3 separate regions of the Homo sapiens genome follow, and regions 1 and 3 are each linked to region 2. Evidence: fine-mapped expression QTL. A gene starts in region 2. Each other region holds a variant in brackets. All regions are shown on one strand. Distances are between the middles of the regions.

Region 1 (2,760 bases), 41 kb after region 2:
TTCAGAGAACAGCGGAAGAAAGCCACTTGCACAGCCCGAGAGGGATGCAGACTGCAGTGGAATTAAGTCCAGAGTTAAACTGCACAAGCACAACATTCTAGGAGGCCAGATTTGTAGTTTAAAAAAAAAAAAAATCAAAGTGCTTGACTTGAATGACCAAATACTTAGTATTTGATATCTACCGTTTTCTTCTTTTGGACAAACCACCTAACAAGTTAAATTCCCAAACAATTGAATAGGATTTCACATCACAAAGATCAAAATTTTTAAGCTTTAAAGAAATACATGGAAATCAAAGTTCACCAAGACTTGCAGATGATTTATTGCATTTTATTTATTAAAGAGGTAAAAGGGCAGAACTGATACCCATCTGTGTTTTCTATTTATGTTATCACTAATGTTAGAATTTGACCAGATCTTTGAACTAAGCTGAGTCTGACTTATTTCTCAAATGAGTCAGGATTAAGAATATCCTATTTTTACACAATGATTCCAAAGTCTTATATATAAAAGATCCAGAAAGATTATGCTTCAAGAAAAGGAGAAAAGACACAGGAGACAATTTCCAGTTGACTGAACTCTCTGAAGCTGAGGTTTGCTAAGAGTCCAAGGTGGAATTCACAGAGTGACATTGGTCTCTGTGGGGTGGTATTCACTGTCACACTGGGAAAATGTCAGAGGCTGGGAGAACGACTGTCCCCTGGGAGCTAACTCTGTCCACTGAGTGTGTCATGATAAATGGGTTTCATTCATGAAGGAAACACTGCTCTTCTGAAAAGCACCAATACTGGCCAGGCAGCCAGAAAACCCAAATATATTGGAGACTCCTGGCAGAAGGGGCCTGAACTCCCTTCTAGTCTCTTCCAAGGAGTTGTCTTAATATTCCACAGTGTTTTCTGTGGCTGCTAGGCCCAAACTGCATGGAACCATACAACAAAAGTTGTGTGGCAAACTACTTGGCATTGAAATCTGAGCCAGCCTTATTCAGATACAACTGGAGGGGAGAAAAACTGCCACTACCACAAATAAGGCAGACAATGTCTTTATTAGCTTAATTCTGCAAGCATTTTTTAAAGGTAATAAAGCCTTGAGGCTTTAGTTAGAGGCAAAAGACTACAGAACATGCCAGATGCTTAGTAAAAATTCAGAATGTAGCCATGAGGTTTTATATATCAAAACACCCCAATGGGCAGATACCAGAATCTAGGGGGTAAGGCATACGTAGTTTAAAAATCATGCCTTATCTTATGATTCACTTGGGGAAAGAGGAAATGTTTATTTTTATAATACGAACATCAGAAAAATCAAGTTCAATAAAATATTTCTGGCCAGTTGAGAATATGCATTCATTCAGTAACCAAAAAATGTGTATTTTTTCTTGAATGCCTAGCCTGTGTCAGGCATTGCCTCAGGCACTGGGAGTGCAACGGTAAACAAACAACATCCTTTTCTTACG[G/A]CATTGACATTCCAGTGAAGGAGAGGGAATAATTCAATAGATAGAAAATAGAGTGCCAGGAAGGGGGAAGGGGTACGTACCAAGAAGAAAAGCAAAGCAGAGTCTGGGAAGAGAGAGTAGGGCCTTTCTGAGGAGATAACGCTTGACCCAGAGACCTGAAAGAAGTGAGGCAGTGAGATGTGCAGGCCTGCAGTGTCTGTGAGAAGTTTAAGCAGAAGGAAGAACCTGTGTCAAGGCCCCAAGACAGAGCATTGCTTGGCAGATTTAAGGAGAAGAGGGGTTAGTGTGGCTGGATAGAGTGAGCCAAGGCCAGTTCTCATAGCTGCTGATGGGCCAAGGAGTGGACGTGAGTAAGTGTGTTAAGTATGCTGAGAATCTGTTGGAGAGTTTTGAGCTAGGGAATAATGACTGATGGAAACTAGATGGGGGGTTGAGGAGGGAAGCAAGTGTGAAGCCCAGATCAGCAGAGGGAACTCTTTAAGTCATCCAGGCGAGAGATGCTGCTAGTTTGCCCAGATGGGAGCAGAGGAGATGCCAACGCATGATTGGATTCTGGAGGTATTTTGAAGGTAGGGCTGACAGGATTTGCTGATTGATGGGATATGCAGTTGGTGAGAAAGGAGCCAAAAATGAATGAAGATTTTGACTTGAACAAGGGCATGAATGATGGAGTCCTACTGGTACCATTGATGTCCCCTGGGAGCCCCAAGAAGGGAGAGCAGTGTGGGAGATGATTGTGGCCAAGGCACAATTGTTTGTGATGCCTTACTAAGCATCCTAGGGGAGATGTTAAGAAATCAGTCAGACAAGTAAGTCTGACGTTCAAAGAGCAAGCTGAGACTGGAGATAGAGATTTGAGAGTCATCAGATTTGAGGAAGAGGAGAGAATTCAGCAAAGGAGACTGAAAATACATATCACAGTTTGCTAAGACACCTAAGGATGGGTATATCAGAATCTGATTAGGGAACATAAGGTTATCAGAAATGAGTGTGAATTTTAAAAGATTAAGAAAAACTGTATTTACATCATCATATCCACAATTGTTCCTGGAATTAGGAGATACATGTTCACAGGAGTAAAAGCTGGCTTTGACAAATAAGATAAATAGAACTGAATTTCAGAATTAACTCTTGTGTTACCCTTCCCCTGAGCCACTATGAACATTTCAGTTTTAGAAAATTAGATATAAATAAGTACATCCAGAGTGTGTTTTTCATTTATGAAAAATCTAGGGCGCTTCAAGTAAAGAAATAATCCTTGTGGGAAGGAAAACAAATACATATAGGAATAAAGTATGGGCTGG
Region 2 (2,760 bases):
GAATCAGTCAAGCATTTCCTAATGCTGAACAGAACAGGAAATAAAGACCCCTCTGGCAGTCTGTGGCTTGCATCCCACAAACCACCGCCATCCGCAGCTTGCTAAGACCACACTCCTGGGGCAAGGCATGCATTCATACACCTACTCTACCTGTGACACCTCTTCTACATGTGCAAATGATTTCACTAAACCTGAAACTTGCTTAGGGGTCAGAAGGAAAGCAAGAGGGAATATAATGCCCTGACTGCAGTCCCTAGTTCCCAGATTCCCCAGGGCCCACTTGTCCTCAGTTGGTGAAACTCAATACACAGACATCCCTCACCAATGCTTTCAGACTCCATTTCAAGTGTGGACTCTGCCCACACTGGTTCTAAGTGACCTACTTTGGCCTCACCTCTTTTCTCTCCACCCTGTCAAACAAGAAAGCGGCTACCTAGGAATACTCTAGAAGTCCGCTGAGTGGTTTTCTGAACATCCAGCTTCTTTACTCTTTCTGGACTCCAAGAAGGCAAGCCCCTTGTCTGATTCATCTTTGTACCTCTCCCATCACCTTTAGCATCGCAGTTGGTACACAGCGGGTGCTTGGTAATGTCTGTCGAATGGCCAAAGGAATAGTACAAAATCTGTGGAAGCGGAAATGGCTCCTCCATTTACCCGACCTTGAACCCTTCCAGAAAAGACCAACCAAATCCCATTAATTCATTAGGCAGAACTCTGCCAGGTACTGGACATTCGGAAACAAATTTCAGGGGGTCGGGGCAGATGGACGGGAAGCTCATGGTGGGTGGATGTACTACAAATTCTATAATCCGCAGTTATACCTCCACTTTCTGGGAAACTTCTCTCCGTGGCCCCAGGGCCCTTTAAATGTTACTATGCGTGTTTTCCTCCATAGTTTCTGGAACAGAACCAAACTTTCGTGTAGGGGTTTGGCAGCGCTCATCCTCACAGCCCTGGGGACCGCTGGCACAGGGGCAAGCGAGGCGTTCGCACGCGAAGGAAACTTGCGAGGAGTCAGGGCGGCCCCGCGCGGGGGCGGGTCGTAGAGTGGGGGCCCTCAAGTCCTAGAACTTCAGGTCCTCCATGAGAATTAGAGGAAGGGGGATGGCCAAAGACGACCAGACGTCCACCGAGCTTCCACAGGCCAGGCCTCGCCCCTCCTCCTGCGGGGCCACAACGCGGGCTCCCCGGCCCGGGACAGCACAGCCAGGGCGTCCGGGCGGGAGGCAGGGCCCGGCGCGGAGGAAGGAGCCCGGGGCCGCCGCCGCCCCGCCCACCCCAGCGAGGCGGAGCCGGCGCCCGGAGGAGCAAGAGGAGGAGGAGGAGGAGAGGTCGGAGCCGTCTCCAGGAGCCCTTAGAGACCGAGTCCCGGCGGCGACGGCGGGGCAGCGCACCGGCAGGCGGGTGAGTACCAAGCGGCGGGCGCGGGTGGTGAGTCGGGTCCCCGCGGGGTCGGGGCGCGGCGCGGGGCGTCGGCCAGCGAGTTCGGGGGCCGCCTCCGAGTCCCGGGTGCTGGGAAGCGAGATGGAGGGAGGGAGCGGAGGAAGGAAGGAAGGAGGGAAGAGTGTCCTGCTGGAGGGCGGGGACTGGTCTGGGCGCTGGGCGCCGGAGACCGGGGGGAGGGGGAGGAAGGGGCCAAGGGACACCGAGACCCAGAGGCAGAAACGGCGCGCGCGCCCTCGACGGGCGGCCGCCCGAGGTTGCGGGAAGCCGCCCCCACGGCTGTGGCTGGGGCTAGGGCTGGGGGTGGAAGGAAAGGTCTCCCCTTGAGCTCGCTTGCCTCCTCGCCAGCCTGCGGCCGTGCGCCCCGCGCCGGGTTGGGAGGCCCCCAGTGTTCCCAGCCGTGGCTTGTGGTGGTGTCAGGCGTTGGAGGAGGGCTGGCATGTGGGGGCGACAGGGACGCCACGCCCCTCTGCCTACTTTCTACCTCCCGGGACCAGCCGGCGGGAGCGCAGCCTTGGAATCCGCTGGGCGCTGGGGGTCTAGCAGGGAAATAGCGGGTCGCAGAGGGGAGAGCCCATATGACGCACCCCGCGAGGGACCCCCGAGTGGGGACCCGAGGCTGCTTTTCTGCAGACTGTATTTGCAAGTGGTAAGGGGGAGGTTGAGGCTTAGTCTTGGGTGATTTTTTTTTTTTTAATTATTGCCCCGACAGTTATCCCGTGGGGCAGGGTGAATTCTGTTTTTCATTTTAATTAGGGCATATCAATTAAAGCTAACTTTAAAACGCTGTCACTTAGCACCTCCCGTCACTCACTCGTCCCTCGCTTTGTGTGTCCTGTAAACTTGGCTTAAATCATTCATAACTCACGATAAGGAAGCCGTGATTCTTGTTCACGTCGCCGCAGTGGAGTGAAACTTTGCCCAACTGGGACTGAGTGGAGGCATTGCTGCGGCCGGTCATCTGGTGGTCATCCTGCCGGGCGTGGTTGTATACAAACAAGTGGGTCGAGAAGGAAATCTCTGAACACCAGAGGTAGAAGGGAGGTTCCTGCGCCCACGTGTCAGGGCGCGTTTAATGGCTGCTCCCAGCGGAAACAAACGGGAATTTATTAGACCGTGTGGAGTTGGACAAACTTCACATGATTAGCTTCCTTCCCATCAGTTACTTCCTCTCCCCCCTGCTGTCTTTGCCGACACAGTTTATATTTCCTGGGGCGGTTGTAGCTTCGCCTGAATAGGCTGTGTATAATGAATCTTTTGGATGTCGTCAGAGGCAGGGTCTGCGTCTGTGCCTTCTCTATTTTAAAAGCGGAGTTT
Region 3 (2,760 bases), 21 kb before region 2:
GTAGAAACATAATTTTTATTTCACTACTCTATCCCCAGTGCCTAGAGCAGTACCTGGTGTATACTCAAACATTCCCTGAATGAATGAGTAAACCCCTCTTCCCAGCCTACCCTTTCATGGTATTCAGGCACTCTTCCTCACATACATCATGCATTGCACCTCCATGCTTATTGCTGTTCCTCCCCCTGAAATACATTTTCCCTTATTTCTGGATCCCAGAGTAATTTCTTTTTTATTTGTTTGCTTGTTTTGAGACAGGGTCTTGCTCCGTCACCCAGGCTAGAATGCAGTGGTGCCATCATAGCTCACTGCAGCCTTTAACTTCTGGGCTCAAGTGATCCTCCCACCTCAGCCTCCAGAGTAGATAAGACTATAGGTGTGCATTATCATGCTGGCTAATTTAAAAAAATATATAGAGTTGGGGGTCTTGCTATGTTGCCTAGGCTGCCAAGAGGGATTTCTGTCCAGCACACACAAGAGCTGAACTGATTGGGAGGAATGGGCAGGAGGTAGGAAGGGGGGAACTTTCCAGAAAAAGATTGCAGCAGAAAACAGTTATAATGGTGAACACAGGGAGAATTGGAAGAATAATTTACCATGGAGAAGGAGAAGGGAAAGAGTCAGAGGGGAGACACCAAGCAACCATCTCCACCAAACTCAGCCTTGTGGCTCAGACCTGCATTTAAGAGTCGGCAGGGTTGCCATCGTCTAGAACCTAGTCCTCCCTCCTCTCCATTCTTCTCATATTTCCATCCATCCAAATCTTTCTTGCTGAGATCAACATAAATGCCCACGCTGTGGCTCCTCCACTCAGCCCTTCAGAGTCATGTACCCCTGCAGCTTTAGTGAGGGCCTCCACTCAGTGTTCATGAAACCCTACTCTGTATTTGAGAAAGATTTGTGGAGTTTTCCTACTTATTTTTTTCTCCAACTAGATAATAAACTCCTTGAAAAGCGAAGATGTACAGACTTTTGAAATATGTTTCAATTTTGACTTCAATACTGACTACCATATTTCATTGAATCTAAGCTAATATAAGATACATTATTTTATATACCACTAAAAACAGAAAAATACTTCCACTTGATTGTAAGACACTGCCAATTGTAAAAAGCATCCTGATTTCAGAGATCTGAGAATGTGAAAAGGGAGCATAGAAGAA[T/C]TGATGGAAGGTATGTGGTCTTAGACATGTGGTAAGCCTCTCTGAACTTCAGACTCGCCATTCATGAAATGAAAACCATACTTTTTCATTCATTCAGCAAATGTGTATTGAGTATTGTGTATTGAGTGCTTAGGTGTTGGGAACTTTTTAAGTTGAAAGGAATAGTAACTGGCTCTGGTTAACATAAGCGAAAGAGGATTTACTGGAAGGATACTGGGAGCTCAGAGAAACAGGGGCTGGAGCAGCAGGCTTGGTGATGGCAGGAAGCAGGGGAGCACCAAGGCCTGGGAAATGGAAACCATGGCAACAGCTCTCACCAGGAGGGCTCTCTGGTGAGGACAGAGATGCTGGGATTCAACTCATTCTCTTGTCCATGGATAACTCAGGAGCCTCTGATGGACGCAGCCTGCCCCCTGGTGTAGGGGTCTGGGGCAGCATCTGCTTGCTTTGGCTTCCACAGTAGGAGGCAAACACAGAATTTGCCATCCCATCAAGACCACACACAACAGAAGAGAGGAAATTCCCCAAAGTGATTTGGAACATTAGGAAGGTGAGAAAGGGAAATGGACAATATGTGGTCAAAACAGAAACCAAAAGAGATAAATTGCATAACATACTCCTAATATGTGCCAGCCACTATACCCCCAACAGTCATGGTCCCCGTTCTTATAGGGGTTACTGTTACTATCCAGTGAAAGAGGCAAATGAGAAACAAAAAGAGAGATAAAGAGAGAAAGAGAGAAGGAAGGGAAGGGAAGGGAAGGGAAGGAAGAAAAGAGAGAGGGAGGGAGGGAGGGAAAAATCCAGATACTGTCAATGAAGAAAAGACTGCTACGGGATAGAATAACTGGGGCTACTTGGCTAAATCCAGTTGCTCATTTTCAGTCCTCATTTTACATAAAACATCAACAGCTTTTGACACAGTTGATCACTCCCTCTCTGTGAAACACTCTCTTCATGCAGCTCTGGGGAAATCATGTCCTCATGGTTTCTCCTCCTTCGCCAGTTGTTCCTTCTCTTTGATGCATCCTGCCTTCATTTCCCCACCCTTAAGTCCTGGAGGGCCCCAGGGCTCAGGCCTCAGACTCCCACTTTATCTGTACTTGCTCCCTTGGTGAGTGCCTCCAATCTCAAGGTTTTAAATATCGGCATACTGAAGATGGCCAACTTTATTTATCCAGCCAGAACCCCTACACTGAACCCCAGACTCGTGTATCCAACTGAAGTCTCAACATCTCCATGGAGATGTCTAACTTAAAGTTCAAACTTATGTCTAAATCTCTTCCTCCACTTACCTCTGCCAAACCTGCCTGACCCATAGTCTTCTCATTCAGGAAACAGCAACTCCATCCTTCCAGAAACCTTGGTGTTATCTTTCGCTCCTGTCTTTCTCTCACCTCTCTCAGCTAATCCACTAGCAATCCCTGTTGGCTCGAGATATAATCACCTCTCACACCTCCACCACTGTCCCGCTGATCCAAGCCATCCTCATCTCTCCCGGACTAGTGTCATAGCCTCCTAATTGATCTCCCTGCTTCTACCCTTGCCCTCTATATTCTAACTTCAACACAATGCCTTGAGTGATGCTTAGATATCT

Direction of the effects. Positions count from the first base shown, and alleles are read on the strand shown. Sizes are in standard deviations (SD) of each study's normalised expression. Not every link is listed here.
With allele G in place of A in region 1, the expression in fibroblasts of the gene that starts at base 1,281 in region 2 is lower (small effect, 0.32 SD a copy in GTEx).

The links. PIP is the estimated chance that this variant, and not a neighbour inherited with it, causes the effect.
Region 1: its variant is the best candidate, but not a certain one, in a credible set for the expression of GNG12 in fibroblasts (GTEx, PIP 0.87).
Region 3: its variant is the best candidate, but not a certain one, in a credible set for the expression of GNG12 in lung (TOPMed, PIP 0.56).

Annotation. Positions count from the first base shown.
Region 1 is chr1:67,790,908-67,793,667 of GRCh38, reverse strand. The region is part of intron 1 of GNG12 (G protein subunit gamma 12); the gene reads left to right. Among named protein-coding and RNA genes, the nearest start is that of GNG12-AS1, 40 kb to the left of the region's middle. RefSeq lists a silencer at 1-42. The variant G/A (reference allele first, on the strand shown) is at 1,457.
Region 2 is chr1:67,831,988-67,834,747 of GRCh38, reverse strand. It overlaps GNG12 (G protein subunit gamma 12), which reads left to right and starts at 1,281. Exons shown (of 4, transcript NM_018841.6): 1 at 1,281-1,404. GNG12-AS1 (GNG12, DIRAS3 and WLS antisense RNA 1) reads right to left here and starts at 2,460. Exons shown (of 10, transcript NR_040077.1): 1 at 2,312-2,460.
Region 3 is chr1:67,852,633-67,855,392 of GRCh38, reverse strand. The region is part of intron 1 of GNG12-AS1 (GNG12, DIRAS3 and WLS antisense RNA 1); the gene reads right to left. Among named protein-coding and RNA genes, the nearest start is that of GNG12, 21 kb to the right of the region's middle. The variant T/C (reference allele first, on the strand shown) is at 1,164.